Regions from separate parts of the Homo sapiens genome. Here region 2 is linked to region 1. The links come from fine-mapping of genetic effects on gene expression. A gene starts in region 1. The other region holds a variant in brackets. All regions are shown on one strand. Distances are between the middles of the regions.

Region 1 (5,375 bases):
AAAGATTGACAAGAAAGATGACAACTGGAAACTCAAAAGACCCAGAGTAGGCAAAAGAATATTGAAAAGGAATAACAGGCAGGACGCAGTGGTTCATGCCTGTAATCCTAGCACTTTGGGAGGTCAAGAGGGCAGATCACCTGAGGTCAGGAGTTCGAGACCAGCCTCGCCAACATGGTGAAACCCTGTCTCTACTAAAAATACAAAAATTTAGCCGGACGTGGTGGTGGGTGCCTGTAATCCCAGCTACTTGGGACCCTGGGGCAGGAGAATCACTTGAGCCCGGGAGGTAGAGATGGCAGTGAGCCAAGATCGCACCATTGCACTCTAGCCTGGGCAAGAAGAGCAAGACTCCGTTTCTAAATAAATAAATAAGTAATAGATACATCAATGGAATAGAATCAAGAATCCAGAAACAAACCACATTTATGATCAATTGGTTGTCAACAAGGGTGCCAAAGGTAGGGCGTGGTGGTTAGCACTTTGGGAGGCTGCGGCGGGTGAATAACTTGAGCCTAGGAATGTAAGACCAGCCTGGGCAGGATAGGGAAACCCCGTCTCCACAAAAAAAAAAAAAAAAAAAAAAAAATTAGCCGGGTGCGGTGGTGTGCACCTGTAGTGCCAGGTACTTGGGAGGCTGAGGCAAGAGGATCAATGGAACCCAAGAGTTTGATGGAAGCTGCAGTGAACTGTGATCTCACCACTGCACTCCAACCTGGACGACTGAGGGAGATTCTGTCTCAAAAACTAAACAAAACAAACGAAGAAACAAAAACAGCATCCTGGCCGGGCATGGTGGCTCATGCCTGTAATCCCAGCACTTTGGGAGGCCAAGTCGGGCAGATCACCTGAGGTCAGGAGTTTGAAATCAGCCTGGACAACGTGGTGAAACCCCGTCTCTCCTAAAAATACAAAAATCAGCCGGGCATGGTGGCGCACGCATGTAGTCCTAGCTATTGGGGAAGCTGAGGCGGACAATCTCTTGAACCGGAAAGCAAAGGTTGCAGTGAGCCAAGATAGCGCCATTGCACTCCAGCCTGGGCATCGCAGTCAGACTCCTCTCAAAAAAAGCTGGAGGGGCTGGGCGTGGTGGCTCACGCCCGTAATCTCAGCACTTTGGGAGGCCGAGGCGGGCGGATCACAAGGTCAGGAGATCGAGACCACGGTGAAACCCCGTCTCTACTAAAAATACAAAAAATTAGCTGGGCGCAGTGGCAGGCGCCTGTAGTCCCAGCTACTCGGGAGGCTGAGGCAGGAGAATGGCGTGAACCCGAAAGGCGGAGCTTGCAGTGAGCCGAGATGGCGCCACTGCACTCCAGCCTGGGCGACAGAGCGAGACTCCGTCTCAAAAAAGAAAAAAAAAAAAAAAAAGCCGGGCGTGGTGGCAACTGTCTGTAATAATCCCAATCCCAGCTGCTCAGGAGGCTGAGGCAGGAGAATCACTTGAACCCGGGAGATGGAGGTTGCAGTGAGCTGAGGTCGTGCCACTGCACTCCAGCCTGGGCGACAGAGCAAGACTCCATCTCAAGAAAAAAAAAAAGTAATTAAGTTCTGCTACTATTTTATTTTTGAACAGGGTCTTGCTCTGTCGCCCAGCCTGGAGTGCAGTGGCATGAGCGCAGCTCACTGCAGCCTCCAGCTCCCAAGCTCAAGTGATCCTTCCACCTCAGCCTCCTGAGTAGCTGGGACTACAGCGCATCACCACATCCAGCTAATTTTCTCTTGTTCCTCTTTTCTTTTTTTCTGTAGAGAAAGAGTCTCACTATGTTGCCTAGGCTGATCTCAAACTCCTGGGCTCAAACGATGCTCCTGTCTCAGCCTCCCAAAGTGCTGGGATTACAAGCAAGAGTCACTGTACCCGGCCAACATGGATGAACTTTGAAAGTGCTATGCTAAGGCTAGGCGAAAGAAGTCAGTCACAAGAGACCACATATTTGTTGCATGATTTCATTTATATGAAATATGCAGAATACGCAAATCTATAAAGACAGAAAATAGATCATATTACTTAGGGCTGGGGTGATTAGCAAATTGGAGGGTGGTGGCTAAAGGTTTCTTCTTGGAGTGATGAAAGGTTTTAAAACTGACTATGGTGCTGTTTGCACAACTCTCTGACTATACTACATATCATTTAATTGTACACTTTAAATGGGAGAAATGCATGGTATGTGAATTATATTTCAATAAAGATCTTACCAAAAAATAGTAAGCTGATTGTGTTAACATAGTTTTATGAAAAAGTACAATATTTTCCCAAAGAAATTTAGTGAGACGAGTGACATAGTTATACATTTTTGCAAATATCTTTGTTGCGGGCTTAAAAGAAGACTACTGGCTCTCATACCTGCTTCTACATTCAATGTGTTACATCACACGTCATGCAGACTTTGTAATACTATGTAATATTTCTGCTTTTTTTTTTTTAGACACAGTCTCACTCTGTCGCCCAGGCTGGAGTGCAGTGGCGCCGTCTCGGCTCACTGCAACCTCCGCCTCCCGGGTTCAAGTTATTCTCCTGCCTCAGCCTCCCGAGTAGCTGGGATTACAGGCGCCCAGTACCACGCCCGACTAATGTTCGTATTTTTAGTAGAAACGGGGTTTCACCATGTTGGCCACGCTGTTCTCGAACTCCTGACCTCAGGTGATCCACCCGCCTCGGCCTCCCAAAGTGCTGGGATTACAGGCGTGAGCCACCGCGCCCGGCCCAGGTATTTTTTTGTCGTTGTTGGCTTTCTGATGTAAGAAACAACTGTCCCTTCTCCCCCGTTGACTTATTTCCTTCAGTTTGGACTCATATCGTAGTCAAGGTTATAATCCGTTGCTATCGCTGTTTATTTGAATCTCACACTGGTTCCGCTCTGGGGTAGGGTCACTGGGGGCGTCAATGAGATGCATGAGAATCGCCTTCCCACGGGGTCAGGAAACTGACAGGCCCAAGAGTGCATCTCAGCAAACGCTCCGTTTCCTGCGGGCAGCCTCAGATACTGGGGACCGTCCTGGGGTCTCAATTAAGCGCCCCCTACCCCAGCCCCTTTACGCCAAGAGCGTCCTGTTCAGCTCCCCCATCCTAGCTCCGCCCCTGGACGCCGCCGTCCAATCTCGGGATGGCCCCGCCTTTTCCGTGAGTTACGTCCCCGCCCCCATGCGCTGACAGGCCAGGCCTGCGGCTCGGCGCCGCGCAGGGAAGACCCGGAGCAGCGGTTTACCTAAGGAACGGGCCGCGCGGTCTTGCTGCGCATGCTCTGAAGTAGCGCGCCTGAGCGTTCCGCAAGGCCGGCTCCCCGGCGGGGTCGCGCGCGCGGTCACGGGGCTCGCTCCCGAGGGGCAGGTCGGGGCTGGGAGCTGGTGCCCGGGTCGGGGTGGCGGCGGCGGCCTGGGTCGCGGGGTCGACGCTCGCTGCTGCAGCGGCAGAGGCTGAAGGATCCGCCGCGGCGCTGTCGCGGGAGAGGGAGGGCCCCGCTGCCGTCGGTGAGGACAGGCCCCTGCGGGCGGGGAATGTCCCGCGTCCCCGGCGTGGACGCGCCCGCAGCCCGGCTCTCCCGGGGGTCCCGAGGGTTGCGGGTGCTGGGGAGGGGTCTGCGTCCCGGCGCTCAGGCCGCCTCCTGTGGGGTCTCCCGCGATTCCCTCCTTGCTCCTCGCCCCTCCATCCCCACCCCCCCGTCCCCTGGCCTAAGCCCGACACCCCCACATCAAGGATCCCCGCACTCGTCCGCCGTTTCCTGGCGGTGTCTGCCCCGCCCAGCGCTGCCTTCCTGGACCCGCAGCATCAGCCCCGTCCCACGGTTGCAGCTCGGGCGGTCCCAGTGACCTTGCACTTTTGCGGGTCGGGACGCACCCCGCTCCCGCTTCTGACCCTATAGATCTCCGGTGACGGCTTTCGAACTTTGTTGACCCACAGCCGACACTGAGAAATGCCTTTTACGCGTGTACTCTGTGCCTGTGGGTCTGGATGACTGAAGCACAAGTTTAAAGGGAGACGCTTGTTTAAGCTCACATGACGCAGCTGGATCTGTTCGGATTAAATTCCGTTCCATTCTCTTCCACCCCGTTCCAAAAGGCTGCTGCTAACCCATGGAGCCTGCACATAACGGGTCTGACGTAGTTGAAACCCTCGCTCTAAACCCTGCCTGTTGTTCCTTTATTCCTTGTACTGGAAGCTGAACTCCCATAGTCAGATAATCATGTGCAAACTCCAATTCCAACGAAATGGCTTATTTTTATTTGCATATTTCTGCTTTCCAAGGGCCAATATGATTTCCAGGGCTTGATCTAGATTTTCTCGTGTGATTATATCATGTTTCTCTTGTTCCTTTCCCAAGTGCTACTGGCGGGACGTGTGGAAGGAACAAGGCTGAGGTTGGGGCTAGATTGCGGAGTGTTTATGACGCCCAGCTGATGATGCACTAAGGCTGGAGATGGAGATGATTTAATTGGGGAGAGACATGCTGAAAGTTAAGCTTTAGGAAGAGTGACCTGTCAGCACCCTATGTGGAGAATTGGAGTGGCTGCTTGCCAAAGCTGGCAAGATCGTTCAGAGGCTTTGGCTTGGGCTAAAGAGGTCGTGGTAAGGGATCATGTCCTGAGTTGGTGGGAGTGGGAAGGAGAGGGAAGATGGGTATATCAGGCATAGAGGGAGAGAGATTTGAGGATGCATTAGGCTGTGGGAAGGAGTAAATAAACTTATATTATGATGGAGGGTGACTGGGGAATACCGGGCTGGGGGGGTCTCATTGGCCAAGCTCTCCCTTTCTGTGCGCTCTAATTTCTAAGTTGCTTTGGAGCTGTGGCTCTTGGGCAATTCTGCACCCCAGGGAACGTTCTGCAGTGTTGGTGGTCACAACGTGTGGTAGGGCATGACAGTGGGATCTGGCAGGTAGAGACCGGGGTTGCTGCTGAACACCCCACGCTGAACAGGACAGCCTCCCACAGCAGAATCATCCGGCCCAAAATGCCAACGGTGCTGAGATTGTGAAGTTCATTTTTAGAGTAAATTTTAATTATCTGGGCATCTCTGCCACCTTCAACCTCTTCAGGAGGAATGTCTGTGTGCACCCACTGAGCCTGTGATGTCACCATAGTGGTTCATGTCTGAGGCAAGTGCACCTCCAACGCTCATGGTTCAGTTGCGGGTAGGTGGGAGGTGGGTAGACACTGGAGTCATCCAGGAGCTTTAAAAAAAAATTTTTTTAGTAGAAATGGTGGGGGCGAGGGGCAGGTCTCACTATGTTGCCTAGGCTGGTCTCGAACTCCTGGGCTCAAACAATTCTCTCACCTGAGCCTCCCAAACTGCTGAGATGACAGGTGTGAGCCACCGTGCCACCGGCCCATTCAGAAGCTTTTTAAACAGAGGGCCTTCCCTCCTCCCGCTCCTATCA
Region 2 (5,375 bases), 45 kb before region 1:
TTTTTGTATTTTTAGTACAGACGGGGTTTCACCATGTTGGCCAGGCTGGTCTCAAACTCCTGACCTCAGGTGATCCACTGGCCTCAGCCTCCCAAAGTGCTGGGATTACAGGCGTGAGCCACCGCGCCTGGCCGAACATTACACTTTTAACAGCTTAGTATTATATCTTCAGTGCCTGTCAGTTAGTGGCCTCCCAATATTGTTGAATCAATTGATGAATTAAGTGAAACACCATTTATAAATTTTTACTTAATAAAACAAGCTACAAATTATATTCTTTTTTTTGGATATTATTGGAATCATACTGTGACATTATCTTAATCTGCTTTTAAAATTCAATATGGCATCTTCTCATATCAGTAAACCATTCATAACATGATTATTAATGTCTATATAATATTCCACTATAGAATTGTTACGGTTTGGATGTGTCCCCAAAGTTCATGTGTTGGAAACTTAATCCCCAAAGCAAGAATGTTGAGAGGCGGGACCTTTCCGAGGTGATTAGGTCATAAAGCTTATGCCCTCCTGTATGGATTAATGCCATTATTTTGGGAGTGGGTTGGTTATCATGGGGTGGGTTCCTGATAAAATGTATGAGTTCCACCCCCTTACTCTCTTATGTATATGCTCTCTTGCCACGTGATGCCTCCCGCCATGTTATGAGGCAGCAAGAAGGCCCTCATCAGATGCAGCCCCTCAATCTTGGACTTCCCAGTCTCCAGAACCATGTGCCAATGAATTTCTGTTTATTATAAATTACCCAGTCTCAGGTATTCTGTACCTGAGCAACACAAAACAGACTAAGACAACAATATACCATAATTTACTCAATCCCATGCCCTCTGATACTGGACATTCATTCTTTTTTCTGTTGTATGTAATGTGTCAGTAAGTAACCTTGTTCATCAATCTTTGAAAGAATCTCTGGTTATTTCCTCAAGCTACATTCCTAGAAGGGAAATTGCTAGGATAAAGGTTTTAAATGTATTTACAGTTTTTGATGACATATATTATCAAACTACACTCTTGAAAAGTTATGTAGTGCCTAGGCATAATAGCTCACGCCCATAATCTCAACACTTTGGGAAGCCAAGACAGGAGGATCGCTTGAGGCCAGGAGTTTAAGACCAGCCTGGGCAACATAGCAAGACCCTGTCTCTACATAAAAATTTTTAAAAATCAGCTTGGTGTAGTGGTGCACACCTGTAGTTCCAGCCACTTGGGAGATTGAGGCAAGAGGATTGCTTGAGCCCAGGAGTCCACGGTTGCAGTGAGCTATGATCGTGCCACTGCACTCCAGCCTGGGCCACAGAGTGAGACCCCGTCTAAAAAAACTAAATAAAAGAGATAAAACTTGTATGTGATTTGTTTTTCTTCCCTATCTTTACCATAGAAAAATAGGATCCAAAAATTTCCGCAAATATCCTGGTAGGACTTGGAAACTCAGTCTTTCTTGCCCTTGAAGAAAAGAGAACTAGTTTTTTGGTTTTTAATGATTTGGTGTCAAGGTCTGCTGTAAAAGAGGAGAACAGTGGCTTGAGGACAGAGAAGACAGGAAATACCTCACCTAGACACCTAGACACAGGAAGGAGGAAGGATTTTCCAAAGCACAAAAGAGGGGAGAAACTGAAAACTTAGGAAAGTTCTCTGAGGGGGGCATTGCTCAAACATCCAGGAGCCCCAGGGAGCCAAGGCCCCACTGGTTGACCTCAGGCTTGAGGTTCAAGGGAGTGCCCAGGGGTGCTTCACTGATCAGAATCTGGCCCCCATCCATGCCTGCCCTGCCCAGGGCTGTACTACCAACGTCCACTTGCTCCCACACCTGGTACTCCCATGCTCCCCTAAGCAAGGCAGATTTTCAGCTCTGGTAGAGCCAAACTGAATGTCAACTGTAGGTTGATAAACAGCCATTTCCCCAAGTCCCCAGGTGCCCCTTACTGCCCAGCTGCTCCAGGCCCTCCACTATCCTCAAAATCTAACACTTAAAGAGTGAATGCCTGTTTTCACACAGGGCCTCCAGCATCTCCAGCAAGACTGTTCTGATTGTCTCATGCCTGTAAAGAGCTGGTTGTTAAATATGTGGGTCAGTGCAGAAACTGACCTGAATAAGTCCCAGGCTCCCTGGGCTGGGATCCTCATTTCTCTTGCTTTCTCCTAACCTGATTAACTGTGAGCCTTTACAGACTTGCTATCTATAGGTCCATGGTCTCTCTCAGGGTACATTGTACCAGATCCACAGTTTGCAGGGCTGAAGCCACCCCGGGATCATCTGGGCCTCAGTTCCAAAAACTGTTTGCTACTATACTCAACACACCACCTCGCTTCACCCTTCTTATTCTGCCCCAAGCATTGTCTTCCCCACTGTACACATGAGGAAATTGGCTCAGAGAGGGAGGAGTTGATCCCAATTCACATGGCTAGGAAGTAGAAAGGCCAGGACTCAAG[C/T]AGAAAGGAAGTAGAAAGGCCAGTCACAGGGCCATTTTAAGACCTTGATAAGCCTGGAGCATTCTCAGCTTTGAAGCCCCCATCACATGGCTTCGAACACATGAGCATGCACCTCCCTCTGCAGAATAAATGCAATGGACCCACAACCGTGTGCTCTGAGTTGCACTGGACCAGTGGACATAATTATGTCTAGGAGACATTTAACAAACAACTATGTAATTCAACTTGGCAACTCCATTTCCTATTTCAGAGTAAGGATAATTTTCCAGGACTCAGACATTTTTGTAAGCCCTACATTGCTGTAATACCAAAAGCCTACAATACGTTGAAACTTTGGTCTTCTCAAAGCATGCCCAGCTCCTCCCCTTCTCTCTGCAGTATAATCCCCATTTTACACACAAGGAAACCATAACAGGGTGCCTCTGGATACAAATAGCAGAGTACTCCGACTCACAATTGCTGAAGCAAAATAACATGACTCTATTATTGTGACTTTATTATTCCAGGAAATGCTTGCCCAGAAACACAAAAGTTGCAAATAACCTTACTCCTTGAGTTCAGGAAAATCCATTAATAAAACCACACAGCTCTTCAACAGGGAGCATCAAAGAAAGCTCCAAGAGTCTTTGAAGCCCTCACTTCACTGTGACCACCAATACAAAACTGTGACCAACAATCCTAAACTATTATAACATGATCCTTACCCAGCCCTGATTAAGTCCGACATCAAAGGACCTGCCTTAAACCAAACCCCAAAACCTCAGTATCTCAACTTTGCCCTCCCGACCTCCACTCTACAATGACTCTTTCAAGGTGGTGCTTCCCCTTAGCATAAGCAACAACCCAGTTTTGTCTTATCAGCTGCTTGCTTTGATGCTATTTCCAGGAGCCAGCATTTGAAGAGGGAACCAGGACCAACACGGTCGGCTGTGTCCAATGAGGTAGGATGAAGCACTGGAGTAAATTTCCCTGGAGAGGTGCGCACTGCCTGCCAACAAGAAAGGGGAAAGCAGTGAGCTGAGATCGCCCCACTGCACTCCAGCCTGGGCGTCAGAGTGAGACTCTCAAAAAATAATAATAATAAAACATTAAAAAGGCGGGGGAGGGGGGGCGGGGGGGGTACCGGAGAAGCAGGCGTCAGTGTTCTACTACAGTCCCACAGTAGTAGAACGTAGTCATGGTGTCTTTGCTATTCGTGCTGAATAGCTGGTGTTTTCCAAAGTAAGTATAGAATTAACTATACTTATTATTATTATTATTATTTTTCTGAGACAGTGTCTCGCTCTGTCGCCCAGGTTGGAGTGCAGTGGCGCGATCTCCGCTCACTGCAGGCTCCGCCTCCCAGGTTCACGCCATTCTCCTGCCTCAGCCTCCTGAGTAGCTGGGACTACAGCGCCCGCCACCACGCCCGGCTAATTTTTTGTATTTTTAGTAAAGACGGGGTTTCACTGTGTTAGCCAGGATGGTCTCGATCTCCTGACCTCATGATCCACCCACCTTGGCCTCCCAAAGTGCTGGGATTACAGGCGTGAGCCACCGCGCCCGGCCAACTAACTTATTTTCAAAATAAGTATAGAATTAACCAACCATACCTCCTTAATTGATGGTTCTCTTAATCTTGATTCCAAGGGTCTTAACTATCTGGATGTACTCATTGTATGCTAAACAGACACCAAAAGGATTGACTAATCTCATTTTTATGTACAGAGAATCAATTCCCGAAAAATGCTGCAGGTTTTGCATTTGTTTTAAAATTTTAAAGGTCATAATATTTATTAATACATATTTATACCCTTAGAATTCCCAATCTGGCAGCAAATAGAGTCCCATTCTATTATGCCATTGAAAGTAATGATAAAAACCGCAGTTACTTTTGCACCAACCTAATAAAACCATGATTAAAAAAATAATAAACATTTAAAAAGCGGTGGGGGGAGTGGGGCGCGGGGGCGAGCCGGAGAAGCAGGCGTCAGTGTTTGCTAAAGAAACCAAGGCCCAGAAGAGAGTTAAATGTTTTGCCCAAGGTCAGGCAAAGAGTTGGCAGGAGGTCTAGAGGAGAATTCAGGCTTCCTCATCTAAACTCCAAGCTTTTCCGCCCAAGCAGGGCATGCCCTGGGGCCAACCCCTCCAGGAAGCCTGGGTAGTGTCCTTCCCTGCATTTCCCCAGTGGCTGCTGCCTCAAGGTGACTCAGAAGGAAGCTGTTGTCTCTAGTTCCTCCTCACCAATCCAGCTGGTCTTAGGATCGGGAAAAAGATAAGCTAATTGTCTGGTGGTTAATTAACTCCAGCCAACTAATGATCTGAACTTGCCGCGGATACCCAGCCAGCGGAAGTGCGGTTAACTGCCCGAGGGATGCCCCGAACACCGGCCGAGCCAACTTCCGGCCGCAGAGGCTGCCGGGCAGGGGTTATGGCGGCCGCCAGAGTGAGCCAGCTTGGTGTCCGGGGACACTTGGGGCACTGCGGATGGACAGCGCTGGTTTTCAATACCAGGGACCTAAGTCCGGGTGGGGAGCGGCCCCTCAGCGCCCCAGACCCCTGCCACGGTGCCGGTGACGGGCCACGCCCAAAATATCAGGAAAAGCGTCTCAGTCCTCCTTGTGGGCGGAGAAGAGACCCAGCGGCCGAGCCCGGGGGCCTCAGATCCCCAGCTGCTCATTGGCCTGTGTCTGTCGCCCCCCGGTGGCCGCGTGAGGGACTGGAGCCCGGCTTTGCTCCTCCCGTTGGCCTCGTTTCTCTTCCTGGCTTTGCGTGTCCCGACCACTAAAAGCCCCAAACATGACGAAGTAAAATGGGCACCGTCAAAAACCGCATTTGAAGACAGTGCGCATGAGCGCATGGTTAAGTTTTCAGACGTTTTGCAAGCTGGATGTTAAATACATTTTTTGACGTCATTGTTAAAAAATAAATTTTATGAGCCTACAATT

What was found. PIP is the estimated chance that this variant, and not a neighbour inherited with it, causes the effect. A credible set is the group of variants that fine-mapping cannot tell apart.
Region 2: its variant is the best candidate, but not a certain one, in a credible set for the expression of FLYWCH1 in whole blood (INTERVAL, PIP 0.60).

The regions. Positions count from the first base shown.
Region 1 is chr16:2,908,687-2,914,061 of GRCh38, forward strand. FLYWCH1 (FLYWCH-type zinc finger 1) reads left to right here and starts at 3,245. Exons shown (of 10, transcript NM_001308068.2): 1 at 3,245-3,468. RefSeq lists silencers at 2,996-3,055, 3,106-3,415, 3,436-3,585, 3,616-3,715, 3,689-3,878.
Region 2 is chr16:2,863,421-2,868,795 of GRCh38, forward strand. It overlaps LOC101929566 (a long non-coding RNA gene), which reads right to left and starts at 4,784. Exons shown (of 3, transcript NR_188573.1): 1 at 4,672-4,784; 2 at 4,041-4,109; 3 at 2,928-3,436. RefSeq lists enhancers at 4,588-4,707, 4,808-4,987, 4,998-5,067. The variant C/T (reference allele first, on the strand shown) is at 2,449.